2 linked regions of the Homo sapiens genome follow. The protein of the gene in region 2 interacts with the protein of the main gene of each other region in a pairwise test. Each region holds a gene or a part of one and is shown on either strand. Other genes may lie near its edges. The genes, in order: CLDN11 and C16orf54.

Region 1 (15,714 bases), on a different chromosome or scaffold from region 2:
TGCCCACAACAGATCATGGAAACAATTGCGAATCAAGGAATAAGAGAACTGAAAAATAGAAGAGTAGAGCAAAACTACATGAACTTTATCCTGTCAAGTAAAATGCCAAGTAAAAACTGTATTAAGAAACAGATTACAATATGTGTCACATTTATTTAGAATAAATCTGACAAGATACTGGGAGAATTTCACAGACAAATTTGTTTCACTTTCAAATGTAATGTTTCTCATTAAAACTCTCCCTCCTCTTAAAAAAGGTGGGGGGGGTCACATTTATTACCCTCCCTTTTTTGCTCAGAAGGAACTAGTACTAGTGGCCTGGGTGAGGCAGAGTTCATAGCAAAGCCAGGAATCTAGCCGACATCTGCCTCACACACCACGACCCTCACGTGCAAAAAGGCCTAACTTCAACGCTGTCTCTTAGCAAGGAACGTTTTGCCAGAATTCGGACTTCACAAGGGCCCTCTTCCAGCACTGCCCATCTCAGCTCCTTCAGAATTAAAGATAATCAGTCAAGTGTCTACTGACTTGAAGATCTCCAGAAAGGAGCTCCAGGAAGTCTGAGGCCCATCCCCTGACCCAGCCGTCCGCCTCTGCGGCTTGTAGAGAGCCAGTACTCACACAAAGCAGGCAGTCAACTGGCAATGCAGGTTCTGAAATCCATGGCACTGGCTGTCCACATGCTACAGTGCCAAGGCCATGTCCGGACACCAAAAGATAGGGACAGAGGACTGTTCCTGCCTCCACCCAAAGTATGAGGGAGGGGGAAGGCAGGAAGGACTAGCGCCGCCCCCCACCCCCCCCCCACCCCCAGAGTATGCACTCCCCTCTGGAGGACAGCCTTTGTTCTCTGAAAACAAACCACTTGGCACTGAATGCTCAGTAAAGTTAATTTCAGGAGAAGAAAACAAAGTTAATTTTATGCTTCAAAGATCCCTACAAATACCATGCCCAGCTTTTAATAAAATACTATAGGTACCATTCATGAAGCATCTACTATCTCAAAGGAGATTACATTTCTTATCTCATTTAATCCTCAAATAATCGTGAAAGATGGGTGGTTGATCTGATTTTAACTTTTAAAAGAAGACAACCGTGGTTCACTGAGGCTAGCAATTTGTCCCCCCTCACCCAGATTGTGAGTCCTGGATGCCGGAGGCTGGCCCGGGTCTGCCAACACCAGCATTAGCCAAAGCTGAGTCTAGATCTGCGTTCGTTGACCTCTGGCCTTCTGAAAGTTCAAAATGAAGGAAAGGATAGCGTAAGGCAAACCAGGCAAGCACTGCCCGCAGCTATTGTGTGCCAGAGGCCATGCCAGGTCCAGAAGAGGAAGCAAAGAGAATAACAGGACGCCATCTCTATCTTCAAGGAATTTAAAACGTAGTGGGAGAACTTCACTCACGAACAATCAACAAAAAACAAGATAAAATGTGCCTTTGTGAGGATAAGAGCCAAGTACTAGGCAGCAAGGAGAAAGGAGGGATTCAGATTCCGACTGCGAGGACCGGAAATAGGGCGTGCTTGGAGGAGGCTTAAGGGGCGAGCACAGTCTTATCTGACTGGCGGCTTCAGGGACAGGTTTCTCCCCATCTTGAGGAAACCGGGAAAATCCTTTAAGTGAGCACAATCCACGAAGGCTGGGGGACAGAAGCCCACCTTGTAGGGACATGCCTTGGGGGTAGAGCAGAGATTCCAGCAGAAAACCAAGGGGGTGCCCGCGACCTCGCCATTGCCCAACCCATTGGTTTAAATCTGAATTGAGGCTGTCGCCCAAAATGTTTCCACAGGACACATGTGAAAATGTGGCCCCTGGCCGGCGCTAGGCTGTCAATTTTTACCTCCCCTTCCCAATCTGAGACACGCTGGAGGGGTGGCGGCGAGCGACCCTCGGCGGCGCGCTCCGTATCTCCCCAGTGGAGTCCGCCCTCCGAGGAGCGCCCGCTCGTCCCTATCCAACCCAGCGGCGCGGAGCGGGAGCCGGCGTCACCGCAGCCCCGCAGTCTGACGCGCCCACAGCAGGGGCGGGGGTAGCGGGGGCAGCGGAGATGGCCCTGGGCACGTGCGGGAATCAACGTGACATTTCCCAAACCAGGCAGCCCAGAGAGCCCTGGACGTGAATTGCTCAGCGGCTGCGCGGACGGAGCTAGGAGGGCTCTAACCTGGCCGGGGGCGCTTCGCCCATCCCATGAGGACCGAGAAACTCAGCCTGAGCCGGTTCGATTCTCCTGTCAGCTTGTGTTACACGCTCCTTCTCACCTCTGCGGGCGGAACCTAACGCGAAGGCTCGGCGCCCCGGGGGAGGCCGGGCGGGAGCGGGAAGCACTTCGGGAAGCGGACGGTGGAAGGATGCGGGCTGGGACCGCAGTAATTAACACGGACTCAGTTCCTATTAGGTGTTCCGGTTTGTTCATTCTCAAAGGGACCCGGCCAGTGTTACCACCGGCCACATTGCCACTATTATCTCAAATTCCAGATAAGAATACTGCGGCCTAGAGAAGTTAAGTTCGGGGCTGCCTAATTCTTTTACAACAAGGTGGGACTAGGGATGTCAAAAACGTACCCAAAGGTCTTCAAGCCCCCAAAATGTCTCTGTGACGCCGTCTAATATCCCGCTCTCTACCCAGAGGATAAGGATTTGGGAGCCGCCGCCAAGCTCGGGTCCTTACCCGGCAGGATGAGGATGTCCACCAGGGGCTTGCAGTGGTACAGCCCCGTGGCCATGACGCAGTCGGCCCACAGCCCCTTGGAGCCCAGCTCATCCAGCTTGCGGCAGGTGGGGATGGTGTAGCCGCAGGTCACCACCCAGTCATTGGTGGAGGTGGTCACGATGACCCCGATCCAGCCCACGAAGCTCGTGACGAAGCCCACCACCTGCAGGCACGTGGCCACCATGGTGGCCGCCAGGATGTCCCCGTGCCTCGCCCCTCACGGCTGTGCCTGGGCCTGGGCTGGACAGTGCCTGCCCAGGTACGTCTCCCACGCTCGCGAGCCGCTGGAGGGCGACGGCCCGAGGCGGGACACTGGAGGTGGAGGTGGGCGCCGGAGGCTGCGAGCTCAGCGGCGAAGGGCGCACGGCGGGGACAGCAGCGCTGCTGGGCAGCGCGCCCCCGCCCCCTCTTTAAGCCCCGCGGCTCCGGCCGGCGAGCACCAATCGGCGGCAGCCCCGGGGCGCGCCGGCCAATCGCGGGGCGGGGCCGGGAGGGAAGCGTGAAGGGGAGCAGAGTAACCCCAGGGGGGCCATTGGGCCGCCCCACCCCGTCCGCAGCGCAGTCCGGCGATGCAAAGTAAAACAATTCCATCCAGGTCCAGAGAAACGGAGAGCGCAAAGAGGGCGTGCGTTTGTCGAGAGTTCTGTTTTCCTGCGACTGGTTTCTCTTCTTATAGCCCCTCTCTCATCTCAGTCTCTGGGTGTCCATTCCGCTCCGACCCTCCTCAGCTCCTCCCTGCTCGCTCCTTCTTCCCTGCTGCGAGCACTCCAAGGGCGCTCGGTACAGTCCCCCGACGACCCAGGATTGTGACAGACTGAAAAGTGCAGTAGGGACAAACGCGAGGCATTCAGTACACACAGTTACTAGAAGAAAGAAAACGATGCTTTTCAGTGGTTGAACATCATCAGCGGCAAACGTGGCCATAATAATCAACAATAGCAACTCACATTTATCGAGCTGTGTTATATATTATGCAGATGCATTTTACATGCATTAGCTCATTTAATCCTCATAACAGCCTTTGAGGTAGGAACAATTGTCAATGACACATACTAGGCCGGGAGTGGTGGCTCACACCTGTAATCCCAGAACTTTGGGAGGCCAAGGTGGGCGGATCACCTAAGGTCAGGAGTTCGAGACCAGCCTGACCAACATGGTGAAACTCCATCTCTACAGAAAATACAAAAATGAGCCGGGCATGGTGGCGCATGCCTGTAACCCCAGCTGCTTGGGAGGCTGAGGCAGGAGAATAACTTGAAGGAGGTTGCAGTGCGCCAAGATCGTGCCACTGCACTCCAGCCTGGGCAACTGAGTGAGACAACGTCTCAAAAGCAAACAACAACAACAACAACAAATTACACGCACTAGCCATAGAGAAACAGCACAAGAAGGTTGAGTTGCCCAAGTTCACGCAGCTAGGAAGGGGTAGATACCATGGGCCCATCTCATCCCTTTCACGAACTGTTTCTAGGAAACTGTCCTGATCAGTCTGAAAATTCCTAAGGGGTTCATGTGTCCCATTTTAGACGCATTAAAAGCTACAGCAGACTTCTCTGGCTCACTGTAAATAAATTAATATCTGTACCCCACTGAGAAAACTGCCTAGCCCAGAATGAGCGCTCTGATAGTGTAAAGCTATCATCATCACCATCAACATCATTAAGCCACCATGCATACAAATAGGCCGCATTATTTGCACCTTTTTATTCAGATAGGGAAGTCTTCCTTGAGCTGCATTTACATTCAACAGTTTTCACTCCCTTTGAAACATTTGGCTTATCTTATTATCTCCTTCTATCCATTCCCTTGGACCACTGCCTCCTCACCAATCATGAGACTTAAAGGTGTGAGGATTTCAGAAAGCACAAAAACTTCCTGCTCAGCGTTCTAAAATCTAAGATACTAACCATAAATCATAGGTACTGAGCTTTCCCAAAGCCAGCCCTAATGCTGGTTATCAGTGCAATCACCATGTCTTCTAGGAAAGCCTGGACTTGAGGAGACAATTACATTTCCCTGGAGACCCCAAGGAAATCAAGTGCACACACAGAAATGGCTCTTGTAATTGATAGCAGAGTGTCAAGTACAAGGGTCACAGTAATCACCCAGGAAGCACAGTGACTAAGAACACAGTCCAACTGCCCAAGTTCAAATCTTGGCTCCATCACTTTCTGGCTGTGAGACCAAGTTACTTTATCATTCTTGGCCTCCTTTTCTCATTTGTAAAATAAGGATGAAAACTGTACCTACCTCATAGACTTTTTTTTTTATTCTGTGAGCTATTAGGTTGGTGCAAAGTATTAAACATAACGGCAAAAACCACGATTACTTTTATACCAACCTAGTAATATATATGCAGAACTTAAAGTAACATTGGTACAAAGTAAGTATTCAGAAACCCCTGGCTAATGTGATGCTTCAGAACGTTGTTGTTGTTGTTGCCGTTGTTGTTGTTTTGAGACAAGATCTGTGTCACCCTGTCTACAGTTCAGTGGCGTGATCACAGCTCATTGTAGCCTTGAACCCCGGGACTCAAGTGATCCTCCCACCTCAGCCTCCTGAGTAGCTAGGACTACAGGCATGAGTCACTATGCCCAGCTAATCTTTCTTATTATTAGTAGAGAGAAGGTCTCACTATGTTGCCCAAGCTGGTCTTGAACTCCTGCGCTCAAGCAATTCACCTGCCTTGGCCTCCCAAAGTGCTGGGATTATAATAGGCATGAGCCAGCAGGCTTGGCCTGATTTTGCATTCTTATGTATCCTCCCTATATTCGTATGAGTTTGATTTGTGGAAACTATTCCATAGGAGTATGTTCTGAGTGAGCCATTGTGTTTGGGGGACGTTTCATCACCAGGGTCTATGGACTGAATGTTTTCAGATATTTCCTTATAACACTTTTTTAAAATGGCTTTTGTGCTAAATACAACATAAAACATAAAACCCAAGCAACATCAACTTCTTGTAAAAGCACTCATGGAATCTGCACTCTTATGCCTCCATTAGAATTTGACATTCGAACCATGAAACTTCAACCAATCAGAATATAATAATGCCCAGATCATCCACAGGTCACACACACATAGTGTTTGTAAAGCCAGATTTCAGAACTCAGGCACTAAATGGTAAAAAAAAAAAAAAAAAAAAAAAAAAATTGCCAAGTTGTTAAGATTGCTGTCTTGGACTGGGACCTCCTAGGTTCACATTCTGTCTTCACCACTTGAGCTGGCCCTTCACCTACGTGACTCTCAGGTTCTTCATGTACAAAGTGAGATAGTAAATGCCCCCTTAGGGCATGGTGAGGATCAAGTGAGATAATTTATATGAAGTACTCAGCATAGTGCCCAGCACTGCTGGACACTCATTCACATTAGACACTGTTAGAATGATTTATAGGAAGCGTAGATTAATTGGAAGTGGGAGTTCCCTTTGGTAGAGATACAAGCTAAATAATTAGGGTATTATTATTATCCAATGAAAGCAATTGTAAAGCCAGTGTCTAATCCATTCCAGCATAGATGTACAAAAGGCCACTTGAGGAGGCCACAAGATGTAACCTGTTTGAATTCATTAGCCCAAGGTAAAGAGAGGGCTTGTCCCTTCAAAAGGAAGGCAGGAAGCCATGGAAGCAAAGAGAACTGGGGGCCAAGAGGCAGAGAGACGCAATGGGAATCCTTGACTATTTTCAGAGTCTGTGGCTCACAGACTCTGAGGATGCGGTGCCATTAGCAAGGCTCTGTAGGGTGGGGAAGTCCCTCAAGCTATCTTAGCTGAGACTTTTGCTAAAATCATCCACATTGCGGCCAGGCACAGTGGCTCACCCCTGTAATCCCATCACTTTGGGAGACCAAGGCGGGTGGATAACGAGGTCAGGAGTTCGAGACCAGTCTGGCCAACATGGTGAAACCCCGTCTCGGGGTTTCAAAATTATACAAAAATTAGCTGGGCGTGGTGGCAGGTGCCTGTAATCCCAGCTACTCAAGAGGCTGAGGCAGGAGAATCTCTTGAACCTGGGAGGCGGAGGTTGCAGTGAGCCGAGATCGTGCCATTGCACTCCAGCCTGGGTGACAAGAGCAAGACTCCATATCAAATATATATATATATATATATATACAAAATTAGCCAGGCATGGTGGCACATGCCTGTAATCCCAGCTACTCAGGAGGCTGAGGCAGGAGAATCGCTTGAACCCGGGAGGCGGAGGTTGCAGTGAGCCGAGATCATGCCATTGCACTCCAGCCTGGGCAACAAGAGCAAACTCTGTCTCAAAAAAAAAAAAAATATCATCCACATTGCTTGGCTGTGGCTCTCCTCCCAAACCCTCTTTGTGATTAAGACCTGACTTCCCATGCAGCACAACTTACTAAACTGATATTCTGGGTCTGTCACAGTCTCAGGTACCCTTTAGTTGTAAGAGTCAGTCTCTCAAGGTCTAATCACCCTCAGATAAACGTCAATCGTTGGTCCCCAGACCATCCAGACAAAGGTCTTCTCAGTTAATTTTTTCTCAGCAAACTCTGCCATGCCATCTTTTCACATTTCCACAGTACATATCAGAACTAGGAAGGTAGAGCTGAGACCTGATTTCAGGTCTTCTAACCCTAAGTCCAATGTTTTTTTCCATTATAAAAAAAAATATAAGATGAGTCATATGCTCTGTGGCTTGAGCGTAAGTTCGTTCCTTCATCTTACTCTTATTCAAAGGTATTTGAAGGGGAGGATTAGGGGATTAGGGCCAGTAAGGCCCTAAAACCCAGATGTGAACTAAACAAAGGAAAAGGCCTGGTTAACTGTTCTTCTACCATTTACACCCAAAAATAGTCAATCAAACTAAAATGCTATTCAGATACAGCACGAATGCATACCACAAAGCAGATGTGACTGCTGGCAAGCATCAAAACCCCACATTGAGAGCAAAGTTTGGGCCAACGAGTAGGCTCTTAGCGCCTGCTAGTGGTTATCTTTTATCATTGCATGGCTGGTAAAAAACTGAAGGGAGCTGTAACTTGTAGAGAAACATGATTAACCTCAGCTTTGCACATTCCAAATGAGGGATAATTAAACCCAACTGGAATGTGCATTTCTCTGTGGAAGTTTTCTTCATATATTTTAAAAAGATGATTCACCTCTTTAGAAAACCAAACATGAAAACACAGGACATATATGAAATTACTTAAGCAAGATTACTCAATTAAAAAATCAAGTACTTCTACTAGGCCCTTATTTACTTATTTATTTATTTTGTTAGAGACAGAGTCTTGCTGTCCCCCTGGAGGCTGAAGTGTGGCGGCACAAACATAGCTCACTGTAACCTCGAACTCTGGGCCCAAGTGATTCTCCCACCTCAGCCTCCTGAATAGCTAGGACTATAGGTGCACACCACCACACCTGGCTAATTTTTTTATTGTTGTATTTTTTATAGAGATGGGGGAGGGGTCTCTGTATTGCCCAGGCTGGTCTCAAACTCTTGGCCTCAAAAGATACCCCCATCTCAGCTCCCCATCACATCCGGCCTGGGGACCTCTTTTTAAGGGATAAATTCCTCTGGTGGATTTTAAATATTTGATGATACACACATACACACATTTTTAGAAATACTGTAGAACAAATTCATAGCATAAAAAGAATATCAAACATAGGCTTTAAAAATGAAATGACCTGTAAGTTTCAGGATTTTGTCTATTTTGTTCATCACCGAAACTGTTGAATGTGGCACAGTACGTGGCATACACAAAGGCACTCAATACATACCTGTTGAATGGAGCTGACTGAAGGGTTGAAAGGGAGAGATTGAATTTGCAAGCCTACAAGTTCCACTAGGATGAGAACCTGAAGACACCATGCAGAAGAAATCAGGAGGTGGTGATTGGAGCTGGTCTAGGGAGTGGGCAAGAGGCAGAGTACAGCTCTTTGTGGTCTCGGGTACCCACCTGCCGCCCACAGGAAAGTGAAGCCTTCAGCAGTAGAAGGGATGTGTACTGCTCAGGTCTCAAACAGAAAAGTCTCTAATTACCTAGACACGCTGGCCTCAATGCATATACTTCCAGCAGAGAAGAGTGGCACCTTCACAATTCACTTCCACCTGGAGATTCAAATTCAGCTACGAGAGGGGAAAAAATTCCTTTTCAGGAAATTTCTCCAACAATCACTGTGGAAAACACACCAGGTTCTCTAGAACAGACAACAGGGCTCCAGGTGCTCCCCCATATCTTGCCCTTTCTTCACAGTGCAACTAGAATATCATTCCTTCAGAAGCCATTTCATCCCAAATTTCCCTTCCTTCAGCTTGTAGATAGAGTAAAATAATGAAAAACTTGTACCTGGAGTTTTAGGCTTGAATCCTCTCAGAGTGTTTTCTCTCTTCAAGTAGCAATTCTATTCATCCACTTCTCTGCCAAGAGTCTCAGACTGCATTAAATGATATCCTGTCTAATTCAACCTATGAGATCATAGTTCCTGAAGAAGAGCAAAAGTCCTTATTTTTAGCCCAAATTCAACTAGCGATTACATTTTCAGAAAACATAGTAGTAATAGAGTATATAAGTGCTGAAGTGAAAAATAAGGAAATAATCTAACTAAAAAGCCACATCTTTAAATTCTCTATCTTAATAATTAAGGGGCAGGGCACGGTGGCTCACGCCTGTAATCCTAGCACTTTGGGAGGCCAAGGCAGGCAGGTCACCTGAGGTCAGGAGTTCGAGACCAGCCTGGCCAACATGGTGAAACCCTGTCTCTACTAAAAATACAAAAAATAGCTCAGTGTGATGGTGGGTGCCTGTAATCCCAGCTACTTGGGAGGCTGAGGCACCAGAATCATTTGAATCCAGGAGGCAGAGGTTGCAGTGAGCTAAGATCACGCCACTGCACTCCACCCTGGGCAACAGAGTGAGACTCTGGCTCCCAATAATAATAATAATAATAAAGAACAGGTGTTTGTCGGCCAGGCGCAGTGGTTCACACCTGTAATCCTAGCACTTTGGGAGGCTGAGGCGGGCGAATCATGAGGTCAGGAGTTCAAGACCAGCCTGGCCAACATGGTGAAACCCTGTCTCTACTAAAAATACAAAAAAATAGCTGGGCGTAGTGGGGAGCGCCTGTAAACCCAGCTACTCAGGAAGCTGAGGCAGGAGAATCACTTGAATCCGGGAGGCGGAGGTTGCAGTGAGCTGAGATCGCGCCACTGCATTCCGGCCCAGGTGACAGAGTAAAACTCTGTCTCAAAAAAAAAAAAAAAAAAAAAAAAAAAGAACAGGTGTTTGCATTTAGCTACCTAGGACATGGAAACACAGAGCAATTTGTTGACTTTTAAGTCTTTTACTGAAAACATGAATAATAAAATGATCAAAACAATCATGTGTCCTCTTATTATTCATTCAATATATAATAAAAAATCACCAATCATGTTATCAATGCTACACTGTTCCATAAAAAACTGTCTACAAGAGAAGCCTGTGTCTCAATGACACCAATTGTTTTCTTTTTGTTTCTTATGTAAATAAAGATTCTATTTTATTAAATTATCCTGAATGAGGACATTGTTGGGCACCAAGATCCAAAGCAGACAACAGAGTAGAGTAGTAAGGGGAATAGGGTGGAATCCTGGCTCCATCACTAACTAGTTGTGTGATCTCGAGCAGGCTGTTTAACTTTTTTGTTTAGTAACTGCATTTAATAACTAATATTCTATTTCCTCACCAGAAAAATTGTGTTAACAACGGTAACTGGCTGGGCACAGTAGCTCATGTCTGTAATCCCAGCGCTTTGGGAGGCTGAGACAGGAAGATTGCTTGATGCCAGGAGTTTCAGACCAGCCTCAGCAATCTGTCTCTACAAAAATAAAAATAGCTACTAATAGTCCTTGCTACTGAGGAGGCTAAGGCAGAAGGATCACTTGAGCCCACAAGTTGGAGGTTACAACGTGCTGTGATCGCATCACTGCGCCCCATGCTGGACAACAGATGGAGACTCTGTCTCAAAACAAAAAACAACAGTAACTATTTCATAATAGCTGTTCGAATGTTAGAATTAAATGTGTTCCTAAATGTACAATTATTGGAGTAGTGTCTAATACATAGTAAGTACTCAATAACTATTGGCTTCTATACCAAAAAATAATCAGTTGGTTGTAAACCTGTTTGTTTGTTTTGTGACAGGGTCTCCTTCTGTAGCCCAGGCTGGAGTGCAGTGGCGGGCTATCACAGCTCACTGCAGCCTTGACACTCCCTGCCCACCAAGCTCAAGTGATCCTCCCACCTCATCCTCTTGAGCAGCTATGGCCATATGTGCCCACAACCATGGCCGGCTAATTTTTTTATCATTTGTAGAGACAGGGTCTTACTATGTGGTCTCGAACTCCTGGCTTCAACTGATCTGTAAACACAATCTTAACCTTCATATTACAGAGCAGTGAAACTCAAAATGTTTCAAAATCTGGTAACATATGAATAAGAATTTGAAAGGAAAGAAAATGTGATCTCACCTACAAGTACAGCATATGGCCCTTTAAACAGCTAAAATAATTCTAGCCATCCCTTCTCTTCGCTGTCAAGATTTAACAACTGCATACAATTCCTTTTTCATTCTGATGATGGTATTTTTGCAGAAATTAGCTTGGCCACTGGAGGGCTCTTGCAGTCTCTCATTAGTTCTAGATAAATGATTTGATAAAAATTAACTTTACTGACAGACAAAGGATGAAGTTTACAAAATACCAATAGCACGGCTGACATGCCCCATTTCAAAAACAATTTGCAATATATAGCAAAAGGATTTAAAATATGTACATTCTTTGATCCAGCTTCTAAAAATGTATCTAATAAACTAATTATAAAGTATTCAATTGTTTTTATTTACATTTCAATTAACTGTTCAATTTAGAAGTAAATTATATGTTATAAAATATGAATCTTGGCCATGCACTGTGGCTCATACCTGTAATTCCAGTACTTTGGGAGGCCGAGGCAGGCAGATCACTTGAGGCCAGGAGTTCAAGACCAGCCTAGGCAACGTAGAGAAACCGTGTCTACTAAAAATACAAAAATTAGCTGGGTGTGGTAGCGTGGGCCTGTAGCCCCAGATAGTCCAGAGACTGAGGCAGAGAATCGCTTGAACCCAGGAGGCGGAGGTTGCAGTGAGCAGAGATCGCACCACTGCACTCCAGCCTGGGCAAGAGAGCAAGATCATGTCTCAAAAAAAATAAATAAAATAAAACATGAATTTGAAAATACAAATTGCTAAATGTACTTCCAAAATATCTGTACAGTTGGAGATTGGTTTTTAAAATATATATAAATATATTTGAAAAATATACACCGAAATGTTAACAACTTTTTTGGGTAGTGAGATTGAGAGTTCTTCCTCTCTTTTGTTCTTTAGGCATTTTCCAGTTCTCCATAATGAACGTGAATTCTTTTGATCATGAGTAAAAAAAAGTTTTAAATTTTAAAATTTAAAATATTTTAAGTATTTTTAAATATTCAGTATTATATAAGGATCTATAAAGAGTACAGGCATACCTCAGAGATAATGTGGGTTCAGTTCCAGATCACCACAATAAAGCAAATATCACAGCAAGGCAAGTCATGCAAATTATTTGGCTTCCCAGTACATGCAAAAGTTATGTTTACGCTATACTGTAATCTATTAAGTGTAGAATAGCAGTAAGACTTTTAAAAATGTACATACCAGCCAGGCACGGTGGCTCATGCCTGTAATCCCAGCACTTTGGGAGGCCGAGGCAGGCCTATCACAATGTCAGGAGTTCAAGACCAGCCTGGCCAATATGGTGAAACTCTGTCTCTGCTAAAAATATGAAAATTAGCTGGGCGTGGTGGCACACGCCTGTAGTCCCAGCTGCTTAGGAGGCTGAGGCAGGAGAATTGCTTGAACCCGGGAGGTGGAGCTTGCAGTGAGCAGAGATCGTGACACTGCACTCCAGCCTGAGTGACAGAGCGAGACTCCATCTCAAAAAAAAAGAAAAGAAAAGAAAGAGGAAGAAAAATGTATATTCCTTAATTTTAAAATACTTTATTGCTTAAAAAAATGCTAATAATGATATGAACCTTCAGCAAGTCAGAATCTTTTTGGTGGTGCAGGGTCTTGCCTCTATGTTGATGTCTGCTGACTGATAAGGGTGGTGGTTGCTGAAGGTTGAGGTGGCTGTGGCAATTTCTTTTTTTCTTTCTTTTTTTTTTTTTTTTTGAGACGGAGTTACACTCTTGTTGCCCAGGCTGGAGTGCAGTGGTGCCATCTTGGCTCACCACAACCTCCGCCTCCTGGGTTCAAGCAATTCTCCTGCCTCAGCCTCCCAAGTAGCTGGGATTACAGGCATGCACCACCACGCATGGCTAATTTTGTATTTTTAGAGGAGACGGGGTTTCTCCATGTTGGTCAGGCTGGTCTCAAACTCCCGACCTCAGGTGATTTGCCTGCCTTGGCCTCCCAAAGTGTTGGGATTACGGGCGTGAGCCACTGCAACCAGCCGGCAATTTCTTAAAATAAGAAAACAATGCCTGTAATCCCAGCACTTTAGGAGGCCAAGGCAGGCTGATCACCTGAGGTTGGGAGTTCGAGACTAGCCTGGCCAACATGGCAAAACCCTGTCTCTACTAAAAATACAAGAATTAGCCAGCGTGGTGGTGGGTGCCTGTAATCCCAGCTACTCGAGAGGCTGAGGCAAGAGGGGAATCACTTAAGCCTGGGAGGTGGAGGTTGCAGTAAGCCAAGATTGTACCACTGCACTCCAACCTGGATGACAAAGTGAGACTCTATCTCAAAAAAAAAAAAAAATTTCTCTGTAGCATGCGGTGCTATTTGATAGCATTTTACCTACAGTAAAACTTCTTTCAATGATATTCCCAGCATCTTCACCAGGAGTATATTCCATCTCAAGAAACCACTTTCTTTGTTCATCCATAAGAAGCAACTCTGCATCTGTCCAAATTTTATCCTGTGATTGCAGCAATTCAGTCACATCTAATTCTAGTTCTTTTACTATTTTCACCACATCTGTGGTGACTACCTCCACTAAGGTTTTGAATCCCTCAAAGTCATGCAGGAGGGTTGGACTCTACTTCTTAACTTGTAAGTGTTGATATTTTGACCTCCTCCCATGAATCATGGGTGTTCTTAACGTCATCTAAAATGATGAATCCTTTCCAGAGGTTTTGTGTTTATTTTGCCCAGATCCAACAGAGGAATCACTATCTATAGCAGCTATAACCTTACGAAATCTTTTTCTTAAATAATAAAACTTGAGGCCAGGCGCGGTGGCTCATGCCTGTAATCCCAGCACTTTGGGAGGCCAAGGCAGGTGGATCACGAGGTCAGGTGTTCAAGACCAGCCTGACCAATATGGTGAAACCCTGTCTCCACTAAAAATACAAAAATTAGCTGGGCGTGGTGGTACATGCCTATAATCCCAGATACTCAGGAGACTGAAGCAGAATAATTGCTTGAATCTGGGAGGCATAGGTTGCAGTGAGCCGAGATCACGCCACTGCACTCCAGCCTGGGTGACAGAGCGAGATGCCACCTCAAAAAATAATAATAATAAAACTTGAAAATCAGAATGACTCCTTGATTCATGGACTTCAGAATGTATGTTGTGTAAGCAGGCATGAAAACAACATTAATCTCCTTGTACATCTCCATCAGAGCTCTTGGGTGACCAGATACATTGTCAATGAGTAGTGATATTTTGAAAGAAACATTGTTTTCTGAGCAGTAAGTCTCAACACTGGGCCTAAAATATTTTGTAAATCATGCTGTAAACAGATGTGCTGTCATCCAGGCTTTGTTGTAGCATTATAGAGCACAGGCACAGTAGATTTAGCATAGTTCTCAAGGATCCCGGGATTTTCAGAATGGTAAATAAGCATTGACTTCAACATAAAGTCAGCAGCTGCATTCGCCCCTAAAGGGAGTCAGGCTCTCTTTTGAAGCTTTGAAACCAGGCATTGACTTCTCTCTAGCAATAAAAGTCCTAGATGGCATCTTCTTCTTCAGATAAGATAAGGTTGTTTCATCTATATTGAAAATCGGTTGTTTGGTATAGTCAACTTTATCAATGATCATAGCTGGATCTTCTGGATAACTTGCTGCAGTTTCTGCATAGGTACTTACTGTTTCACCTTGCACTTTTATATTATGGAGATGGATTCTTTCCTTAAACCTTTGTGTGTTCACTAGAGTTGTACTTTTAATTTCCTTCAAAAACTTTTCGTTTGCATTCACAGCTTGGCTAACTGTTTGGCACAAGAGGCCCAGCTTTCAGCGTATCATGCCATGTTGCAACATTCCTTCCTCACTAAGCTTAACCATTTTTAAGTTTTTATTTAAAATAAGAGAGTTATATATTTTATTATTTATTTTTTTTAATTTTTTTATTTTTTGAGATGGAGTCTCACTCTGTCACCCAGGCTGGAGTGCAATGACGCAATCTCAGCTCACTGCAACCTCCACCTCCCAGGTTCAAATGATTCTCCTGCCTCAGCCTCCTAAGTAGCTGGGTTTACAGGCACGCGCCACCATACCCGGCTAATTTTTGTGCAAAATGGCAGTAGTAAGTCTTTACCTGTCAATAATTACCTTGAATGTAAAGGATTTAAATTCCTCAATCAAAAGGCCTAGGGTAGTAAGGTGGGCTAGGTGTGGTGGCTCATGTCTGTAATCCCAGCACTTTGGAAGGCAGAGGCAGGTGGATTGCTTGAGTTCAGGAGTTCAAGACCAGCCTAGCCAACATGGTGAAACCCAATTTTTACTAAAAATACATGCTAGGCACAGTGGCTCATGCCTGTAATCCCAGCACTTTGGGAGGCCAAGGCAGGCCGATGATTTGAGGTCAGAGTTCTAGACCAGCCTAGCCAACATGGTGAAACCCCACCCCTGCTAAAAATGCAAAAATTAGCCAGGTGTGGTGGCACACACCTGTAGTCCCAGCTACTCAGGAGGCTGAGGCAGGAAAATTGCTTGAACCTGGGAGGCGGAGGTTGTACTGAGCCGAGATGG
Region 2 (15,372 bases):
CTGAGATCAAGCCACTGCCCTCCAGCCTGGGCAACAGAGTGAGACTCTGTCTAAAAACAAATTTTTTTAAATTAATTAAAAGAAAAAGTGACGCAGGGCATGGTGGCTCATGCCTGTAATCCCAGCACTTTGGGAGGCTGAAGGGGGTGGATCACCAGGTCAGGAGTTTGAGACCAACATAGTGAAACCCCATCTCTACTAAAAATACAAAAATTAGCCAGGCATGGTGGCACACACCTGTAATCCTAGCTACTCGGGAGGCTGAGGCAGGAGAATTGCTTGAACCTGGGAGGCGGAGGTTGCAGTGAGCTGAGATCATGCCACTGCACTCCAGCCTGGGTGACAGAGTGAGACTCCGTCTCAAAAAAAAAAAAAAAAAAAAAAAAAGAAAAAGAAAAAGTGTTGCTAGGCACAGTAGCTCACGCCTGTAATATCAGCACTTTGAGAGGCTGAGGCGGATGGATCATGAGGTCAGGAGTTTGAGACCAGCCCAGCCAACATGGTGAAACTCTGTCTAAAGATAAAAAAAAAAAAAAAAAAAATAGCCGGGCGTGGTGGTGCATGCCTGTAATCCCAGCCACTCGGGAGGCTGATGCAGGAGAATTACTTGAACCTGGGAGGCGGAGGTTGCAGTGAGCCGAGATTGTGCCATTGCCCTCCAGCCTGGGCAACAGGGCAAGACTCCGTCTCAAAAAAAAAAGAAAAAAGAAAAAGAAAAAGTGTGATTATTGCGATTACAGATCTGAGCCACCACGCCCAGCCTGTGTAATTTTTGATAAGTAATACTAATTTAATATTTTTCATTTAGTAAAAACATCTATATCGGCCGGGCATGGTGGTTTAGTAATCGCAGCACTTTGGGAGGCCGACGTGGGTGGATCACCTGAGGTCAGGAGTTCAAGACTAGCCTGGACAACATAGTGAAACCCCGTCTCTACTAAAAATACAAAAATTAGCCAGGTGTGGTGGCAGGAGCCTGTAGTCCCAGCTACTCGGGGGGCTGAGGCAGGAGAATCGCTTGAACCTGGAGGCAGAGGTTGCAGTGAGCCGAGACTACACTACTGCACTCCAGCCTAGGAGACAGAGCGAGATTCCACCTCAAAAAAAAAAAAAAAAAAAACTGTATCTCCTGAGTTATCAAGAAATTACTCATATGTTTAAGCTTCTTACTTAGGTGAATACCTGATTGTCACAGGCTATAAAAATGATTAACAGGGAAGTAACTTGAAATAATGACTATCCTTGCCTAATATCTCAGTTTTCATAAATAATCTAGGGAAACTGTTAAAAATAAAGTATGTAATGGATAATTTATTATAAATAAATTTTTCATGTAATTTTAAATCTTCTATTATGTTCTATTAAATTAACTATTATTCATTAGATGTGTGTATTATTTCCAAGTAAGAAGAAATAACTGAAACAAATTGCTGAACATAAATGTTTTTGGCTGGCTTCTTAAATTTTATAGAATGACTAAATATACTTGGTCTTTTTTTGTTGTTGAGACAGTGTCTTGCTTTGTTTCCCAGGCTGGAGTGTAGTGGTACACCCATAGCTCACTGCAGCCTTGAACTCCTGAGCTCAAGTGATCCTCCCCTCTCAGCCTCCCAAGTAACTAAGACTACAAGCACATGCCATCATGCCTGGCTAATTTTTTGATTTTTTGTAGAAATGGGAGTCTTGCTATGTTACCCAGGCTGGTCTCAAACTCTTGCCCTCAAGCAATCCTCCTGCTTCAGTCTCCCAAAATTGTGGGATTACAAACATGAGCCACCTTGCCTGGCCTTAAACTTTTTTTTTTTTTTTTTGAGACAGAGTCTCGCTCTGTTGTCCAGGGTGGAGTGCAGTGGCATGATCACAGCTTACTGCAACCTCTTCCTCCTGGGTTCAAGCAATTCTCCTGCCTCAGCCTCCTGAGTAGCTGGGATTACAGGCATGTGTCACCACGCCCAGCTAATTTTTTTTTTTTTCCCCAGACAGAGTCTTGCCCTGTCACCCAGGCTGGAGTGCAGTGGCATGATCCCGGCCCACTACAACCTCCACCTCCTGGGTTCAAGCGATTCTCCTGCCTCAGCCTCTCAAGTAGCTGGGACTACAGGCACCTGCCACCAAACCCGGCTAATTTTTGTATTTCTAGTAGAGACAGGGTTTCACCATGTTGGCCAAGTTGGTGTCGAACTCCTGACCTCATGATCCGCCTGCTTTGGCCTCCCAAAGTGCTGGAATTACAGGTGTGAGTCACCTCACCCGGCCTTTTTTGGTATGTTTAGTAGAGACGGGGTTTCGCCATGTTGGTCAGGCTGGCCTCAAACTCCCGACCTTAGGTGATCCACCTGTCTTGGCCTCCCAAAGTGCTGGGATTACAGGCATGAACCATTGTGTAGGGCCTAAACTTGTACGTGATGAAAGAATCAAAACAGCCAGTGATATCTTAGTAAGAAAAAACCATGTCTGATCTTTCCAGTTTTTAATAATGTTAACTCTTCTAAAAGTTTGTTTAAAAAGATTGATTAAAAGAGCACATACAAGTTTTCAGGTTTTGTTTATTTTGATTTTTTTTTTTTTTACAATAAATCATTGTTTGATTGTAGGGAAACACACATAACTGCCAGGCACGGTGGTACACACCTGTAATCCCAGCTACTTGGATGGCTGAAGCAGAAGAATATCTTGAACCCGGGAGGCGGAGGTTGCAGTGAGCCAAGATTGCGTCACCGCACTCCAGCCTGGGCAACAGAGACAGACTCCGTCTCAAAAGAAAAAAAGAAATACATAACATAAAATAACATCAAAGTTACTATCATTTTTCTATATTGACCTCTAGAACAGCCAGAAAGAACATCTTAGTTATTTTTAAGCGTGTTGTTCGCTGGCACTAACTTCAGGTTTGATTTTAAGGCTTGTAATCTGGTAAAATTCTAGCCTCCTCAGGTTTCTGCGAGTGTCCTGAGCCTTAGCTTCCCCCTGTAACTGCCAAAGGGGTTCACCTTGCCCGCTGCCTACACATAGCCGATTCATCAAGACAGCAAAATTGCAATAAAGAGTAATTCACACAGAGCCAGCTGTGCAGGAGACCGGAGTTTTTTTTTTTTTTTTTTTTTTTTTTTTGACGGTTTTGCTCTTTTTGCCCAGGCTGGAGTACAATGGTGCCACCTCGGCTCACTGCAACCTCCGCCTCCAGGGTTTAAGTGATTCTCCTGCCTCAGCCTCCTGAGTAGCTGGGATTACAGGCACTTGCCACCACACCTGGCTAATTTTGTATTTTTAGTAGAGACAGTGTTTTCTCCATGTTGGTCACGCTGGTCTCAAACTCCCAACCTAAGGTGATCCACCGGCCTTGGCCTCCCAAATTGCTGAAATTACAGGCGTGAGCCACTGTGTCCAGCCAGGAGTTTTATTATTACTCAAATCAGTCTCCCTGAGCATTCGGGAAACAGAGGGTTTTTTTGTTTGTTTTTGTTTTGTTTTTTTGAGATGGAGTCTTGCTCTGTCGCCCAGGCTTGAGGGCAGTGGCGCAATCTCGGCTCACTGCAAGCTCCGCCTCCCAGGTTCATGCCATTCTCCCGCCTCAGCCTCCCAAGTAGCTGGGAGTAGCTGGGACTAGCTGGGACTACAGGCATCCGCCAACACGCCTAATAAATTTTTTGTATTTTTAGTAGAGATGGGGTTTCACCGTGTTAGCCAGGATGGTCTCGATCTCCTTGTGTCCAGAATTGGCGGGTTCTTGGTCTCACTGACTTCAAGAATGAAGCTGCGGACCCTCACGGTGAGTGTTTCAGTTCTTAAAGGCGGCATGTCCGGAGTTTGTTCCTTCTGATGTTCGGACGTGTTCCGAGTTTCTTCCTTCTGGTGGGTTCGTGGTCTCGCTGGCCTCTGGCGTGAAGCTGCAGACCTTCACGATGTTACAGCTCATAAAGGCAGTGCAGACCCAGGATAAGCAGCAGCAAGATTTATTGGAAAGATCAAAAGAACAAAGCTTCCTATGTGGAAGGGTACGCCGAGTTGCCACTGCTGGCTCTGGCAGCCTGCTTTTATTGCCTTATCTGGCCCCACCCACATCCTGCTGATTGGCCCATTTTACAGAGAGCCAACTGGTCTGTTTTATAGAGAGCTGATTGGTCCATTTTGACAGGGTGCTGATTGGTGTGTTTACAAACCTTGAGCTAGACACAGAGTGCTGATTGGTGTATTTACAATCCCTTAGCTAGACATAAAGGTTCTCCAAGTGCCCACTAGACTCAAGAGCCCAGCTGGCTTCACCTAGTGGACCTAGCACCTGGGCTGCAGGTGGAGCTGCCCACCAATCCTGTGCCTGCACTCCTCAGCCCTTGGGCGGTTGATGGGACCAGGCCCCGCAGAGCAGGGGGCGGTGCAGGAGCCCAGGCAGGGGGACGCTTGGGCATGGCGGGCTGCAGGTCCCAAGCCCTGCCCCGTGGGGAGGCAGCTGAGGCCTGCGAGAATTCAAGTGCACCTGTGGGCTGGCACTGCTGGGGGACCTGGCGCACCCTCTGCAGCTGCTGGTCTGGGTGCTAAGCCCCTCACTGCCTGGGGCCAATGGCGCCAGCCGGCCTCTCTGAGTGCGGGGCCCACCGAGCCCACGCCCACCCGGAACTCATGCTGGCCCTCGAGCGTGGCCCGCAGCCCCAGTTCCCGTCCGCGCCTCTCCCTCCACACCTCTGGCAAGCAGAGGGAGCGGGCTCCCGCCTCGGCCAGCCCAGAGAGGGGCTCCCACAGTGCAGCGGCGGGCTGAAGGGCTCCTCAAGCGCAGGGAGAGTTGGCGTGGAGGCCGAGGAGGCGCCCAGAGTGAGTGAGGGCTGCCAGCACGCTGTCACCTCTCATCCTGACCTTGTGATCTGCCTGTCTGGTCCTCCCAAAGTGCTGGGATCTGGGAGTGCAGATTGGTCAGAGATGAAATCATCAGGAGTCAGAGCTGTCTTCTTGCAGAGTCAGTTCTGGGTGGGGGCCACAAGATCAGATGAGCCAGTTTATTGATCTGGGTGGTGCCAGCTGATCCATCAAGTGCAGGGTCTGCAAAATATCTCAAGCACTGATGTTAGGAGCAGTTTAGGGAGGGTCAGAATCTTGTAGCCTCCAGCTGCATGACTCCTAAACCATAATTTCTAATCCTATGGCTAGTGTTAGTCTAGTCCCCAGGCAAGAAGGTCTGCTTTGGGAAAGGGCTGTTACTGTCTTTGTTTAAACTATAAACTACAAACTAAGTTTCTCCCAAAGTTAGTTCAGCCTACGCCCAGGAATAAACAAAGACAGCTTGGAGGTTAGAAGCAAGGTGGAGTCAGTTAAGTTAGATCTCTTTCTTTGCAAAGGCGGTTTCCCCCGGACTCTCCATCTCCAGCTCCTCCCAGCAGGGCTCAAAACCACCAGGATGGGGCAGTCTGACGGAGACTGTCTTTTCATTCATTTATTTATTTAATTTATTTATTTTGAGACAGAGTCTCGCTCTGTTGCCCAGGCTGGAGTGGAATGGCACGATCTCGGCTCACTGCACCGGGTTCAAGCGATTCTCCTGCCTCAGCCTCCTGAGTAGTTGGGGTCATAGGCGTGCGGCACCACGCCCGGCTAATTTTTGTATTTTTAGTAGAGACGGGGTTTTGCCATGTTGGCCAGGCTGCTCCCAAACTCCTGACCTCAGGTGATCCACCCGCCTCGGTCTCCCAAAGTGCTGGGATTACAGGCATGAGCCACCTCGCCCAGCCCAGGGATTTCTATCTATTCTTCCACCACCCTGGCCACTACATGCTCACCCACACATACATTGGTCATGCGACTTTGGTCATGAAATCTCTTTTCTTTAAGCCTTACTTTTGTCATCTGTGGATGAGTCAAACTAGAGAATCTCAGAAAGTCACCTGGACTCCAGAGCCTGATGACATCTTGTCACACTCTGCTCCAGGCTCCTCCCACCCTCAGCAGCAGGAAAGAGGGACAGACATGAGGATGGTCAGGGTTTTGGAAACAGGCCCACGCCTGTTTTTATACCCTGGACTCCTCTCAGAGGCTTGACATTTTTGTTACCCAAGCCTCACCTCACTGATATTTTCCAACCAAAATGGGGGCTAAATGGTCTGAAGAGAGAGAGACTTATGTTAATTAAAAGTATGAGGCAGGGGCCAGTGTGGTAGCTCACACCTGTAATCCCAGCACTTTGGGAGGCTGAGGCAGGAGGATCTCTTGAGGCCAGGAGCTTGAGACCAGCCTGGGCAACATAGCAAGAGCCCATCTCTACCAGAAAAAAAAAAAAAAGGTGTGAAGCAAGCTGGCCAAGCAGGGGGTGCCTGTGGGGGCTGCATGGCAGGAGCAGATCTGGGGAGGCACCGTGGATAAGACAAGGCAGGATGGGGTGGGGCATCCTCCCAGGAGGAACGGGGGAGGCACCATGGTTCTCTGGGAATGTACGGGCTAAAGTCCCAGTGTCCTATTTCTTTTTCTTTTCTTTTCTTTTCTTTTTTTTTAAGACGGAGTCTCACTCTGTTGCCCAGGCTGGAGTGTGGTGGCACGATCTCAGCTCACTGCAACCTCCGAGTCCCGGGTTCAAGCGATTCTCCCTGCCTCAGCCGCCTGAGCAGCTGAGATTACAAGTGCCCGTCACCATGCCCAGCTAATTTTTGTATTTTTCAGTAGAGATGGGGTTTCGCCATGTTGGCAGGCTGGTCTCGAACTCCTGACCTCAGGTGACTTGCCCACCTTGACCTCCCAAAATGCTGGGATTACAGGGGTGAGCCACTGTGCCTGGCCCCGGCGTCCTCTTTCTCAGCTTTTCGGTGAATGTTCTGGGGCTCAGGGCCTGGCTATGGGGTGACACTAAGTTCAACAGAACCATTGCCCATTCCAGCCCCACCTTACCCCAGGAAAAGCCTCCTCACCGCAGTGACCACATCCCCTTGGGTTGCTTTGGAAACAAACACTCCCCAGGGGCAGACGAGTTGGGGCACAGTTGCCCAGCAACAGGCGGTGCCCTCCCTTCCGCCTTCATCCGAGGCCGGGCCTCTACGTCTGAGAGGCGGACCGCCCTGCACCCTCCAAGCCTGCACCTCTTAGTCCAGCACCAGGAAGAGTGGCTCTAGGAGGGAGAGGAGCCCAGGGACTGACCCAAGGTGAGTTGAGGGGTGCAGGAGGCCCCCTGCAGATGGAGGATGTGGGGGACAGAGAGGTGTGCAGAGACAAACGAGAGATAGAGACAGGCCAGAGCCTGGGCAAAGCTGGGGAGCCCAGGAGGGGTGCAGAGGCGCCTCCGGAGGCCTGGCCCGGCCCGGCCCGGCAGCAGATTCCGTGGAGCCTATGAGAGCAAGATCAAGTCCGAGGAGAATGGTGAGGGGCGAAGGAGCCTCAAGGGGCCAGCGGAGGTGCTGGCGGCAGGCGGTGGGGGAGACACACGCAGGGGAGCCAGTGGGAGGGGAGGTTCTCATTTCTTCACCCACCACTTCCTCTCTAGGTCTGAGCAAGACTTGAGGGGGCCGAGTGGGGAGGAAAGAAGCCCTTGAGACCTTTCTTGTCTGAGGCACCCTGGGGTCTGGGAGGGAAATGGGGATTCTGGAAAGGCCTGGAGAGCCAGGCAGGAGGGCCTGGCTGTGCCCCGAGGTAGGCTGCCTGTCCTCCCACCCCACCTGGCTCACGCTTACCCTTTCTGGTCCCTCTTGCTTCTCTGTCTCTCCAGAATGTTCTTTTTCATTTTTGAGAAAGGGTCTTGCTCTATTGCCCAGGCTGGAGGACAGTGGTGCAATCTGGGGTCACTGCAGCTTCAAACTCCTGGGCTCAAGTAATCCTCCCACCTCAGCTTCCTGTGTAGCTGGGACTACAGGTGTGAGCCACCACACCCAGCTAGTTTTTAAATTATTTTTAGAGATGAGGTTTCACTGTGTGTCCAGGCTGGTCTTGAACTCCTGGGCTCAAGTGATCCTCCCGCCTCGACCTCTCAAAGTGCTGGGATTCCAGGCATGAGCCCCCATGCCCAGCCCTTCTCCCAGGCTTTCCTGGACACCTGCTGCCTCTCTCTCATCTTGGTTGTGCCCCCTCTGCCTCATTTACTTCCTCTTCTCACCCCTGTGTCTCTCAGATGCCGTTGACTCCAGAGCCGCCCTCTGGGCGCGTGGAGGGGCCCCCCGCATGGGAAGCAGCCCCATGGCCCTCACTGCCCTGTGGGCCCTGCATCCCCATCATGCTGGTCCTGGCCACCCTGGCTGCGCTCTTCATCCTCACCACCGCTGTGTTGGCTGAACGCCTGTTCCGCCGTGCTCTCCGCCCAGACCCCAGCCACCGTGCACCCACCCTGGTGTGGCGCCCAGGAGGAGAGCTGTGGATTGAGCCCATGGGCACCGCCCGAGAGCGCTCTGAGGACTGGTATGGCTCTGCGGTCCCCCTGCTGACAGATCGGGCCCCTGAGCCTCCCACCCAGGTGGGCACTTTGGAGGCCCGAGCAACAGCCCCACCTGCCCCCTCAGCCCCAAATTCTGCTCCCAGCAACTTGGGCCCCCAGACCGTACTGGAGGTCCCAGCCCGGAGCACCTTCTGGGGGCCCCAGCCCTGGGAGGGGAGGCCCCCCGCCACAGGCCTGGTGAGCTGGGCTGAACCCGAGCAGAGGCCAGAGGCCAGCGTCCAGTTTGGGAGCCCCCAGGCCAGGAGGCAGCGGCCAGGGAGCCCGGATCCTGAGTGGGGCCTCCAGCCACGGGTCACCTTGGAGCAGATCTCAGCTTTCTGGAAGCGTGAAGGCCGGACCAGTGTGGGGTTCTGAATCCCCAGGGTTCCCCAGAGATCCCCGAGGCAGGCCTTGCCTCAGTGGGACCGGGGACCCCAGGATCCAGCATTAGGATTGAGACTGCCCCAGCGAAGATGCCCTTCCCAGGCTCCTTCCACCTGGAGTCCCCCTCCCCGGGTCTGGGTGGTGGCCAGGCTATGTGGACTAGGGGAAGCCCAGCAGTGCCTCTGCTCAGCTACCTGGGCTGTGGCTCAGAGACCTGGGGGTGGAGCCAATGCCAGGCCAGAAGCCTTCAAGATCGCATCCAGATGAAGAACCCAAGGTACTAGATAGTCAGGAAATGGCATCGACCAGCCACCTCCACCTTCTTTCAGTGTTTACCGAAGCCACCAATACCAAAGAGAACGGGTCCTGCGGTGCTGAACAGCCTCGGTGTGGCGATGACAGCTGGCAGGAGATGACAGGAATCCAGTTTCCCAGAGCCACAAATCCTGTTCTCCTTGGCCACTCACCCACTGTGAGGTCCTCTAGGAAAATACACAAAGAGAGGACCAGACCAGGCAGAGGAACATTTTGTTTCATATGAACTGTGGCTTTGACCCCCAAACTGCAAGGAGGAACTTGCTGGGCCAAGCTGCAGCGGCGCTGTCTTGCTGGAGTGGGGACCTAGAGTCAGAGAAAACCCACAGGCTCCTCTGCCCATTCTCCTCCATCTGCACACGTCTCAGCCTCGGACCCTCACCACTCCATGGTGAGGAAGGCCATGGCCAGGGGAAACTGAGTTTCATCCAATGTGGAGAGGAGCGTTGTCCTAGAGCAGGGCAACTCCCAAACTGTGACCTCTGATCATCGTCCCTTCCAGCTTGCTGGAGTGTCCAGAGAGACAGATTTGCCACAAGCTAGGCTTACTTATAATGCTCCACCCTACAGAAATGGGACCCCAAGTACCCAATCTTCCCTTTAGGAGAGGCAGGCAGGTGGGTGAGCAGCAGATGTAGTTTCCATTTCCCTGGGGGTTTAATTTTCCAAACTTTGTCTTTTTTTTTTTTTTTTTTTTTTTTTTGAGACAGAATCTCAACTCTGTCACCCAGACTGGAGTGCAGTGGCACAATCTCAACTCACTACAGCCTCGAACTCCTAGGCTCAAGCGATCCTCCCACCTCAACCTCTAGAATAGCTGGGACTGCAGGTGCATACCACCACGCCCAGCTAATTTTTGTATTTTTTTTGTAGAGACACGGTCTCACCATACTGCCTGGGCAGGTTTCCAACTCCTGGGCTCAAGTGATCCAGCAGCCTTAGCCTCCCAAAATGCTGGGATTACAGGTATGAGCACTGCACCCGGCCACTTTTTTTTGTTTTTGAAACAGGGTCTCACTCTGTTGCCCAGGCTGGACTACAGTGGCACAATCTCAGCTCACTGCGGCCTTGAACTCCTGGGCTTAAGTGATCCTCCCACCTCAGTCTCCCTAGTAGGTGGAACTACAGGCATGTACCACCACACCTGGCTATTTTTTTTTTTTAGAGACAGGGTCTTGCTATGTTGCCCAGGCTGGTCTTTAATTCCTGGGCTCGAGAGAGCCACTCATCCCCATCTCTCAGAGTGTTGGGATTACAGCCATGAGCCACCATGCCCGGCCAAACTTCAGCCTTGAATATTAGTGATTTTGCCATATTAGTTTACCATCTGTACAATTATTTGCTTTATATTTTTCTTTAAATTGGCTCATTATTCACTTAATGAAATTATTGCAACAGGAATCTTTTGTATCACTTCTGTAAATGGAAAACCAGTCTCATTTGCCATCAATAGAAGGTAAAACATGAAAATAAATACAATGTAAACAAAATTGTTAAGATCTAAATTCTGTTCCCTGCTGGAAGCATTGACCTAAAACTCTGCTCTTTGTTTTTGTTGTTGTTTTTGAGACGGAGTCTCGCTCTGTTGCCCAGGCTGCAGTGTGATGGCGCGATCTCCGCTCACTGCAACCTCCGCCTCTGGGTTTAAGCGATTCTCCTGCCTCAGCTTCCCAAGTAGCTGGGATTACAGGCGCCTGCCACCATGCCTGGCTAATTTTTGTATTTTTAGTAGAGACAGGGTTTTACCATGCTGGCCAGGCTGGTCTCGAACTCCTGACCTCATGATCTGCCCGCTTCAGCCTCCCAAAGTGCTGGGATTACAGGTGTGAGCCACCGCGCCCGGCACTGCTCTTTGTTAACAAGAAAAGGGAATGTTGATCTGCAAGTCAGAAAGTGTTAGATACTCTAGCACCACAATGAGACCTTCTGGAAGTGCCAAGGCAGACAGACAGCCCCGCACAGGGGGCGGGATGCTGTGTTGTTTAATGCTGTCCACGAAGTTCACCCACAGCCAGGAAACACTCACTTCTCCCTGCACAGTGGGCTAAGGAGCACTTGGAGCCTCTCATCCAATCCCTTGACCTCCCCTCTGATTTTTGGGATGTTGGAAGTTGACAGAGCAGCCAGAAACCCCAGGCAGAGGGACCGAGAGCCTAGTCCAGTCTCTTCTCCCAGGTGTAGTCACTGGCCAGCATCCTAAGCACTGTTTCTGAGCTGGGCACTGGGAGGGGAGGAATAAGACCTGGGCCCTGCCCTCAAGGAGCTCACAGTCTCTCTAGCGGCAGAGTAGGGAACAAAGGTAGGGGTGAGCTAAGATATGGACACAAAACTGACACCAGGGAGAGACCAGGGCCCTGTCCCATCTCTATCACTCATGAGCTGGGTAATGACATTCCTTATCATCACCATCAGTTGACAGCACTGGGTTGTGGGGACTCTGCCCACGAGGAGTGAACAGACCTGAGAGAAACAGAAGATACAGGCAGGTGTTCAGAGGTCAGATGCTTCCATGCCATGGGTTCAGGAAAGGCACTGCAGTGTGGAAGAAATGCAGGGACAAGGCCCCAGTTCATGATCTGCCTCCATCACCTTATTCACTTAGAGACTTCAGAAAACAGAGTTTTGTATTATGGGGCCTCATGTGCTTTTTTCATGTACAAAAAGACAGCTGAAAGTTGAACAAGATGTTCTATTGGGACTTTTCTAGCTGTGACATTTGAGAATGAGTGAAGGGGGCCAGCCCCTCCACACCTGTGGGTATTTCTTGTCAGGTGGGGCAAGAGACTGAGAAAAGAAATAAGATGCAGAGACAAAGTATAGAGAGAGAACAGTGGGCCTAGGGGACCAGCGCTCAGCATACGGAGGACCTGTGCGGGCACTGGTCTCTGAGTTCCCTTAGTATTTATTGATCACTATCTCTACTATCTCAGTGAGGCGGATATGGCAGGACTATAGGGTAATGGTAGGGAGAGGGTCAGCAGGAAAACGTGAGCAAAGGTCTCTGTGTCATAAATAAGTTTAAGGAAACGTGCTGTGCCTCGATGTGCACGTAGGTCAGATTTATGTTTGACTTTACACAAACATCTCAGAGCAGTAAAGAGCAGTATTGCCGCCAGCATGTCTCACCTCCAGCCATAAGGTAGTTTTCTCCTATCTCAGTAAATAGAATGTATGATCGGGCCTTACACCGAGACATTCCGTTCCCAGGGACGAGCAGGACACAGATGCCTTCCTCTTATCTCAACGGCAAAGAGGCCTTCCTCTTTCACTAATCCTCCTCAGCACAGACCCTTTACGGTGTTGGGCTGGGGGACAGTCAGGTCTTCCCCTTCCCACAAGGCCATATCTCAGGCTGTCTCAGTGGGGAGAAACCTTGGACAATACCCAGGCTTTCTTGGGCAGAGGTCCCTGCAGCCTTCCGCAGTGCATTCTGTCCCTAGATACTCGATAATGGAGAATGGCAATGACTTTTACCAGGCATATTGCCTGCAAACACATTTTTAACAAGGTGCATCCTGCACAGCCCTAAATCCATTAAACCTTGAGTCAACACAGCACATGTTTCTGCGAGCACAGGGTTGGGACTAGGGTTACAGATTAACAGCATCTCAAGGCAGAATTTTTCTTAGTACAGAACAAAATGGAGTTTCTTATGTCTTCTTCTTTCTACAGAGACACAGTAACAGTCAGATCTCTCTTTCTTTCCCCCACAGTGAGTAAAATGAAAGACGGTTGGATGGATGGATGGATGGATGGATGGATAAATAAATGAATGGATGGAAGACTAGATGGATGGATGAATGGATGGATGGATGGATGAATAAATGGATGGATGGATAGATGGACAGACGGACAGATGGATGGATGAATAGATGGATGGATGGATGGATGGATGGGAGAATGGATAGGTGAAGAGAATGGATGTGTGGATGAGTGGATGTATAGATAAATGGATGCATTGATACATGGATTTCTGCATGCGATCTTCCTGAGGCAGAGTCTAACTTGCTATCTGCAGAGTCATCTTTATATTTCCAGACCCAGAACATGGTCTAAAACACTATAGGAGCCTAATGAATGGGGAATGAATAAGTTCATAGATTAACAGACACATTCATTTTACTGTTTCTTCTTTTTACTTTAAACCTCTCCTGCTCACTTTTTTTTTTAGACGCATTCATTGACCGGAATCCCACTCATTTTTAACACCATCTTATTTCTTTCTCATATTGATGTCTTCTTTTATATCTTTAGAAATTTAAACCACACTTGCTGTATGGTTCTTTGCCAAATAATGCTATTCTCTGGAGTTCTGGAGTTGGAGCTAATCCTGCTATATGCTGTGTCTGCTTACTGTCATTCATGAAGATTGTTTCCTCTTATGTTTTGTAATTTTGAGCTGTGAATTCAGCTTCAGCAGGGTGTTATCAGTGGGAATGCACATGCCCACCAAGGTTCAAAGAGGTTTCACATCTGCTTCTGCCAAGAGCTCTTCATGGGTGTTACCAACCCTGGACTACATTGTTATTATTATTATTATTATTATTTATTATTATTATTATTTTGAGACAGAGTCTTGCTCTGTTGCACAGGCTGGAGTGCAGTGGTGCGATCTCAGCTCACTGCAACCTCCACCTCCCAGGGTCAAGCAACCTCCACCTCCCGAGGTCTCCTGCCTCAGCCTCCCGAGTATCTAGGATTACAGGCTCCTGCCAACATGCCCGGCTAATTTTTGTATTTTTAGTAGATACGTAGTTTCACCATGTTGGCCAGGCTGGTCTTGAAATCCTAACCTCAGGTGATCCTCCCACCTCAGCCTCCCAAAGTGCTGGGATTATAGGCACGAGCTACCACACCTGGCCTGGACTATATTATTTGTTGACATTTGGGCTTCCCAGACCATGCAGATGATGTAAACTTGAACCCCAAGTCCAAGTGAGGCCAAGCCTTTGGTTATGAATTCTCAAAAGAGACCATTTATTGTCACCAAATCTCAGAGTGAAACAGACAAGGTCCTTTTATGCTCCCTGAACTGGAGGCAGATTTTTTTCCTAGTTTACTCTTTCACCAAGGATGTCACCCCTTAAGGGTACAAGCTTTCTATTAGTGTTTATGTTTTCAGTTCCCCAGACAAGGCCTTATCTCCAATCTCTAGGTAGGTGTAAAGCCCTAGGCCCTTCAATGCCAAGATCACAGCCACCCAGCAAGTTGCACAGCTCTAGTGTTCAGTTTCCTCTTCGTGCCTCCTGGGGATTTCCCTTTCTTTTTTGCAACTAAGCTGCATGTTTTAAAGGATGTTTGTTTGGTTTTATGCAGCGCTTCTAGATGCATAGTGGTGAGGACATGCTTGTCAGGTTATTCCATTCACACTATCACCCAAAAGGCTATTTCCCCATATAAATAAGTTGACATCTCTCCCACCTTAAAACAACCAGCCAACCAACAACTCTTTTTTTTTTTTTTTCTTTTTTCTGAGATAGGGTCTCACTCTGTCACCCAGGCTGGAGTGCAGTGGTGCAGTCACGGCTCACTGCAGCCTCAATCTCCTGGGCTCAAGCCATCTTTCTGCCTTGGCCTCCCAAGTACCTGGGGTTACAGGCACATGCCACCAGATCTAACTAGTATTTTGACTTTTGTAGGCATAGGGTCTCACCATGTTGCCCAGGCTGGTCTCAAACTCCTAGCCTTAAGTGATCCTCCCTCCTCAGCCTCCCAAAGTGCAGGGATTACAGGGGTGAGTCATGTCCAGCTCCAACAACTCATTCTCTACCCCTCACACACAGCACGACTTCTCACCTCCTTCACAGCCAAACGTCTGGGAAGAGCCGTCTGTCCTAGCAGTCTACACTTTCTCATCTTCCCCTCCCTCTGCAACTGGTTGCAGGCTTCCATGGGCTTCCAGCACTCTACAGAAACGACTGCCATCAAAATCATGACCTGCTGTTTTAATCAAAGGACACTTTCAAGCCTCCTGCAGACAGCACTGGACACTTCTGGAAATGTTCTCTCCCCATGGCTCTGTGGCTTTACACACACCTGCTTTCCCTCCCCGCTACCCAGCCGTGCTCTCTGACTCTCTTTGCTGGCGGCATGCCTTCTCAAAGGTCAGTCCTGGGCTGCTTTTCCCCTCCCTCTGCACTCCTTCTGGGAAATTTCACCTAGGCCCAAGGCTCCAATTGCTATCTCTTTTTTTTTGAGACGGAGTTTCACTCTTGTTGCCCAAGCTGGAGTACAATGGCATGATCTCAGTTCACTGCAACCTCCGCCTCCTGGGCTCAAGCAATTCTCCTGCCTCAGCC

What was found.
Region 1: the proteins of C16orf54 (region 2) and CLDN11 interact in binary tests that used the Homo sapiens proteins (3 or more experiments, as listed by UniProt).

What each region holds. Positions count from the first base shown.
Region 1 is NC_000003.12:170,406,245-170,421,958, reverse strand, and holds the start of CLDN11 (claudin-11), read right to left. Parts: upstream 3,092-15,714; 5' UTR 2,893-3,091; coding exon 2,667-2,892; intron 734-2,666; exon of another isoform or gene 622-733; intron 1-621. UniProt on the Homo sapiens protein: Plays a major role in tight junction-specific obliteration of the intercellular space, through calcium-independent cell-adhesion activity.
Region 2 is NC_000016.10:29,737,654-29,753,025, reverse strand, and holds C16orf54 (transmembrane protein C16orf54), read left to right. Parts: upstream 1-7,035; 5' UTR 7,036-7,115; exon of another isoform or gene 7,116-7,299; coding exon of another isoform or gene 7,300-7,329; intron 7,330-7,402; exon of another isoform or gene 7,403-7,542; coding exon of another isoform or gene 7,543-7,599; intron 7,600-7,640; exon of another isoform or gene 7,641-7,779; intron 7,780-8,074; coding exon 8,075-8,749; 3' UTR 8,750-9,087; coding exon of another isoform or gene 9,088-9,136; 3' UTR 9,137-10,563; downstream 10,564-15,372.